Regions from separate parts of the Homo sapiens genome. Here region 1 is linked to region 2. Evidence: fine-mapped expression QTL. A gene starts in region 2. The other region holds a variant in brackets. All regions are shown on one strand. Distances are from middle to middle.

Evidence for each region. PIP is the estimated chance that this variant, and not a neighbour inherited with it, causes the effect. A credible set is the group of variants that fine-mapping cannot tell apart.
Region 1: its variant is the best candidate, but not a certain one, in a credible set for the expression of WNT9A in prefrontal cortex (ROSMAP, PIP 0.52).

What each region holds. Positions count from the first base shown.
Region 1 is chr1:227,580,995-227,583,901 of GRCh38, forward strand. All of the region lies in intron 1 of ZNF678 (zinc finger protein 678), which reads left to right. Among named protein-coding and RNA genes, the nearest start is that of ZNF678, 19 kb to the left of the region's middle. The variant A/AT (reference allele first, on the strand shown) is at 1,493.
Region 2 is chr1:227,946,529-227,949,431 of GRCh38, forward strand. It overlaps WNT9A (Wnt family member 9A), which reads right to left and starts at 1,404. Exons shown (of 4, transcript NM_003395.4): 1 at 1,265-1,404. The coding sequence starts at 1,359. LOC124904533 (a long non-coding RNA gene) reads left to right here. Exons shown (of 2, transcript XR_007066912.1): 2 at 174-775. RefSeq lists silencers at 226-335, 1,439-1,518 and an enhancer at 1,309-1,358.

The DNA of each region.
Region 1 (2,907 bases), 370 kb before region 2:
GGACTTCTATATAAAGGTCATGTACAATTTTCACTGGATAATTTTCAAAGTCTTCAATATGAATGCTGAAATGAAAAAGGTTTAATAAATATGAAGAAAAGGAGGAAAAAGAATAGAAAATGTAGTATGGTTTCTTAGAAATATAAAATCCTTATATTTATTTATAATTTGTATCCTGTCAATTGCTAAGAAAAGTATTAGGGCTTGTCATTAAAATTATATTGAAGTATATTATACATATATAAATATACATAAGTTATAAGTATATAGCTTGATAAATGTTAGAAAATTCTGCAACATACCTAGGTAACTAGCCCTCAGTTCAAGAAGGAGAGCATTAAAAAGAGGAATAAAGAAAGAAAAGAAGGAAGGAAGGAAGAGAGGAAAAGAAAGAAAGGAAAAATTAAAGGAAGCATGGATTACTAGAAATCTAGATGCCCTCTTGTAGTTTCTGCCTATCCACCAAGTGCAAACATTACCCTGATTTCTAAAACCATTAAGTAGTTTTGTCTATTTATGAACTTTATGGTCATAAAATGTGTACTCTTTATGATTGGCTTCGTTCACTCAACATTCTTAGTGGCGCATTGCTTCTTTTTCATCCATAATCTAATCTATCTATACTTATTGCTGTATTGTATTCCATTGTATAAAATCAACTTGTATTGTTGATAAAATTTCGATTGTGTCTAGTTTGGGACTATTATGAATACTCTTGCTTTGAACTTTTTAGTGCATGTCTTTGTTGCCAAGGTAGTCACATTGCTGTATGCTAGAGACCTAGAAAAAGTGCTAGATTATAGGTTATGCGTATGTTCAGCTTTAGTATATACTGCCAAATGGTTTTCTAATGTGGTCCTTACAATTTACATTTCCACCAGCAGCGCATGAGAGTTTCATTTGTTGTACACCTTGGCAAACATTTCGTATGTTTTCTTTTTTCATGTTAATTATTTTGGTGGCTATGTAACTGAACTGCATTGAGATATAATTTGCATTTCCTTGATAACTAATAAAGTTGATGTCATTTTATATGTTTAATGGCCATCTGAAGGTAATTTTTCTTAAGTATCAGTTTAAGACTTTTGCATTGTTATATTGCATTGTCTACCTTTTTCTTATTAATTTGCAAATACTCTATACATTCTGGATACAAGTATATTGTCAGATATATACACACGCACACACACACACACGAATATCTTCTTCCACTCTAGTTTTTTATTTTCTTAATTTTGATAATAATTTCTTAAATTGAATGTAGTCACATCAATTTTTCTTTTTTTCTGGTTATTTTTGTTAATTAATTTGTTATTATATATGTATATATGTGTGTATGAGATAGGTTTTACTCTGTCACCCTTGGTGAAGTGCATTGACATTGTCATAGCTGACTGTAGCCGCAAACTTCTGGACTTAAGCAATCCTTCAATCCTTCCATCTCAGCTTCCCAGGTAGCTAGGACCACAGGGGCATGCCACTTGCCCAGCTA[A/AT]TTTTTTTTTTTTTTTTTTTTTTGTAGAGACGCATTCTCACTATGTTGCCCAGGCTGGTCTTGAACTCCTTCCCTCAAGTGATTCTTCTGCCTAATCCTCCCAAAGTTCTTAGATTACAGGTATGAGACACCACACCTGGTCCTGGTTTCTATTTTTAAAAGTTTTGCCAATTATAATACATATGTCACTCTTATGTTTTCTTCTAAGAGCTTTATAATTTTAACTTTTGCATTCAGAGCTACAGTCATCTATAATCAATTTATGTGTGTGGCCTGAGATAAGAATCAAGATCTTTTCTGTGTGTGTGTGTGAATGTCTAATAGGCTTGGCACCACTAGTGCCAGTATAAGACATTATTTACTTACTGCACTGTCAACTTTGTCATTAATAAGTTGGTCATATATATTTTGTAAAAGTAGTTCTTAAAAGGATTATATTTTAGTTGAAGGTTAATTGGCAATTTCTGATAGGTAAAGTCCCTAGTTTTGTTTGTTCTGTTTATATTGCATTCTGGCTTTCTTACTTAGAAACCTAAAGCACTGGAACTGCCACTATAATAGCCTCCCTGTTAAGATTTTTAAACACTTGTTTTTATTTATTTTACTTATTATGTATCCGTTGCTCTGACTCCTTAGAAATAATAGATCCGTTGGGTCTATTATTTCTAAGTTCTATTGGTAACCTTTACATCTAATAACTGTTCACAGCATACCTGATGTCTTATTCCATGTATGATTCAGTAGACATCCAGGCAACAAATATTATATTTATGAACCCCTACTATTAATTCTTCCTTTTCTATAATGATAACTTTGCAACAATTCAATAAGTCCATTTTAGAAAATTTCTTTTTTTTTCTTTTTTCTTTTTTTTTTTTTTTTTGAGACAGAGTCTTGCCTTGTCGCCCAGGCTGGAGTGCAGTGGCACAATCACAGCTCCCTGCAACGTCCACCTCCCAGGTTCAAGCAATTCTCATACCTTGGCCTCCCAAGTAGCTGGGATTACAGGCAATTCCACTTTTGATTTAACTTTGTCAGGAGTTCCTTGACCACTGTCAGAATTGATGACTCATTAGAAAAACTAAAAACACTTAGAAAAACTGTTACATTTATGGCTACAATTTATTAAATAGAAAAGATACAGATTATATTTAGGGAAAAAAAAATAGGAGGTAGGAAAGCTTTCAAAGGAGACCAAGTGCATGCCTCCAGTTGTCCTGTCACAGTGGAGTCACACAAGCAGTACATAATTTTCCCAGTCATAATGTGACATGTGCAAAGTTTTGCCAAGTAGAGAAACCAACCAGAGTCTTGGTGTCCAAAGTATTTTGTTGGGATTCAATTGCATAGGCATGCATTGGGCACATGATTGGCTCTAGCTACTCAATCACCATTTCTACTGTAGAGATCAAACT
Region 2 (2,903 bases):
GTACCCACAGTTGGAGCCAGGAGAGGGCTGCGGGTGGGGGCCCCAGGGAACTGAGACACCGGGCTGACCCTGGAAGACGACCCAGAAGAAAGGAACAGAGAGAAGAAAGGGAGAGAAAGAAAAACACAAAGGGAAAGTTTCCCATGAAAATATTTTATTTTCTTTGAGAACAGGATACACCTGCAGGGCTCCTCGGCCCAGGCGGCCTCTCCCTGCCCGGGCGGGTGCCAGATTCCTGGACCAACGGGGCCCTCTGCCGGCCAGCCCGCCGCGCGCTGGCGCTCAGGCCAGAGGGCCGGGAACAGGTGACCGGCGGAGGGCGGCGGCCCGGCTGAGGGAGCGGCCCAGGGCGTCCAGGTCGGGGGCTGGGATCCGAAGGCCAGCCAGGGCTCCCAGCGGCGGCGCTCGGGGTAGGAGGCTGGAGGGTGGCGGGGAGGCCCGGGGCGCTGCCTCGCACGGCGCCACCCTGCACCTCAGCGCGCCCAAAGCGCAGCGAGGGTCCCTGTAAAGGTCGCAGGACTGGGCATCCCAGACCTCAGAGAGGGGGAGGGAAGAAGGAAGGGAAAGAAAGGAAGAGAGAGACGCGCCGACAGCCCGGCAAAGCGCTGCTGCAGAGACACGTGAGCACGGGCAATGACACCGCGGGACGCCCCGGCCGGGCCCTGCGCTCCCGGCCAGGTTCCATGGACGCGCTCCCGCGGGCCGGGGCCCGGGCCACAGAGTCAGAAGCAAAGCGCAAGAAAAATAAATTCCTCCAGCTTGGAGGATTTCTCTCTTTCTCTCTCTCTCTCCGTTTGGGGCTCAGCGCGAGGAACATCTGGATTTTGTACGTATTTTTGTTATTGTTAAATTAACTTCTCGAGAAGAGAAAGGGGGGGAAGCTGCTAGGTGGGCGATGGCCAGGGGCTGAGGACTCAGGCTCCAGCCTTTTGGCAAGGACACGGCGGCCCAAGGAAGTCGGGACCTGATCCCAGTCCCTAAGCGCGAGGCAGTCCTGCTCACGGCGGCGACTACGACGACGACGACTCTGCGGTCACGGAGGACCGCGGCCCGGCGCAAGCCGGACGGGTCCACCCGCCTCTCTAGCCGTGCCGCGCAGCGGACGGAGCGACGCGCGCGCCGCAAACAAACAGCGCCAGGCAACCCGGCGGCCCCGCCGCGCCCCGGCCCCAGCCACCCCGGGTGCCTCGGGGACTCCGGACGACCCCGCCCCGGCCCCGCCGCCCCCGCCCACCAGTGCGCGCCGGCCGCCGAAGGCACCTACCCGAAGTAGGCGGCCGAAGGGCGCAGCGCGGCGAGCAGCAGCGTCAGCCCGAAGGCCGCGGCCAGCCAGCGCGCCAGCGGGGACCCATCCAGCATCTTGCCGCGCCTCGGCGGCCGACCATCGCGCTCCCAGCTCCGCGCAGGGCGCGCCGCGGCCGCCGCCCTCTTATAGCGCCCGGAGCGCGGCCAGCTGGGCCCGGCCCCGCCCCGCGCCCGGGAGGGGATCACGCCGGCGCCGGGGGCGGGCCGAAACCCGAGCCGCGCGCGCCAGCCCGCCAGCCCCTCCCGGCCACTCGGGGCCCCGGCCGCCGCTCCCGGCGCGGGTCTCGGGCGCGCCCTGCCCGGCGGGGATGGAGGAAGGGGAGGCGGAGAGCGGTGGGAACCGAGGGCGGGGCGTGCGAGAACCCGGGGCGACCACGGCGGGACGGCATTGGGGGGCCGGAGGCGGGCATCGGGAAGCGGGTAGAGCGTTGGGGGCGCTGCAGTGGGAGCTTGGGGCGGCCCCCGGGGCGGGATTGAGGGGGAGGGGAGGGGAGGCGTTGGCCGCCGGGCTAGCCGCCGGCGGGGCTCCAGGCCGGGACGGTCGGGGATGGTTCCACAGAGGACCCAGCCGTCTGCCCCGAGCTGGGCGCTGCGCGGCTGCTCCGGGGGAAGCTTGGTGAGGAGGAGTCGGGCCAGCCGGTGATGCCTGCGCCTCTTGCGCATGCTGACCCCCTCAAGGAGCGGGGCCAGAGAATCGCTCCTTTCTGGCAGGGACTGTGGCCGCTTTCGGCCTGGGAATGAAGCGACGTAGCCTGCTGGGGCTGTGAGGTGAGTAGCTCTACCTTTTGGGGTCCTGATGGTCTCCCCATTCTTAAATTGTGGGAGTGGAGCTAGCGGCTAAGTCAATGAAACACCAGCCATCGGGCAACGCCCTTCTCAGAGCCTGTGTCCTGGCCGGGACGGGGAGAAAGAGGACTCCTGGGATGGAAGGTGCACACCCAGGCAGCTGGAAGCGCTCAGTCACAGCCCGGGGACTCGTCCCCTCTGCGATACGGATTCGGAGCTGCTTCTGAAGCAGAATGGTGTCAGAGGACCCAGAGCTGGCATTAGGATACAGGTGCACACATTCCAGACAGACCTGGGGGTGGCATCCAGGAGAAGGCTTATAAGTTCCCTGGATGGGGCCTCTGTGCCATGCAACAAGGGACACAAGAACAGGGCTTGGGGTCCAGGCTGGCGGTGGCATGCCTGCCACCTGCAGACCCTGGTCAGTGCAGGATGGTGCCTCCAACACGGGCTAGGCTGCCAAGGCTGAGGACACAGGGCCAGCGAGCCTGCCCAGCCACGTGCTGCAGGGGCCTCAGAGACCTGGGCTGCGGTGCCAGGTCTCTAGGCAGTGCCCTCTGTGCCTGCAGGGACTGATTCTGGCACAGTGACCGCAGAACCTGGGGGGCGGAGCACATGCCCCCGGAAGGCTGTGAAATCCCGCCAGTGGCAGTGACAGAGGCGAATATGAGGGTCCTCAGAGGAAAAACAAAGAAGATAGGAGCAGCAGAAAATGGCCCCCACGAGGATCTGAGCCAACCTCGCCACCCCTAGGGCTCCCGGCCCTGCTTCCCTGGGAAAGCCTGGCCATGTGGGTCACCCCTGTGAGCATA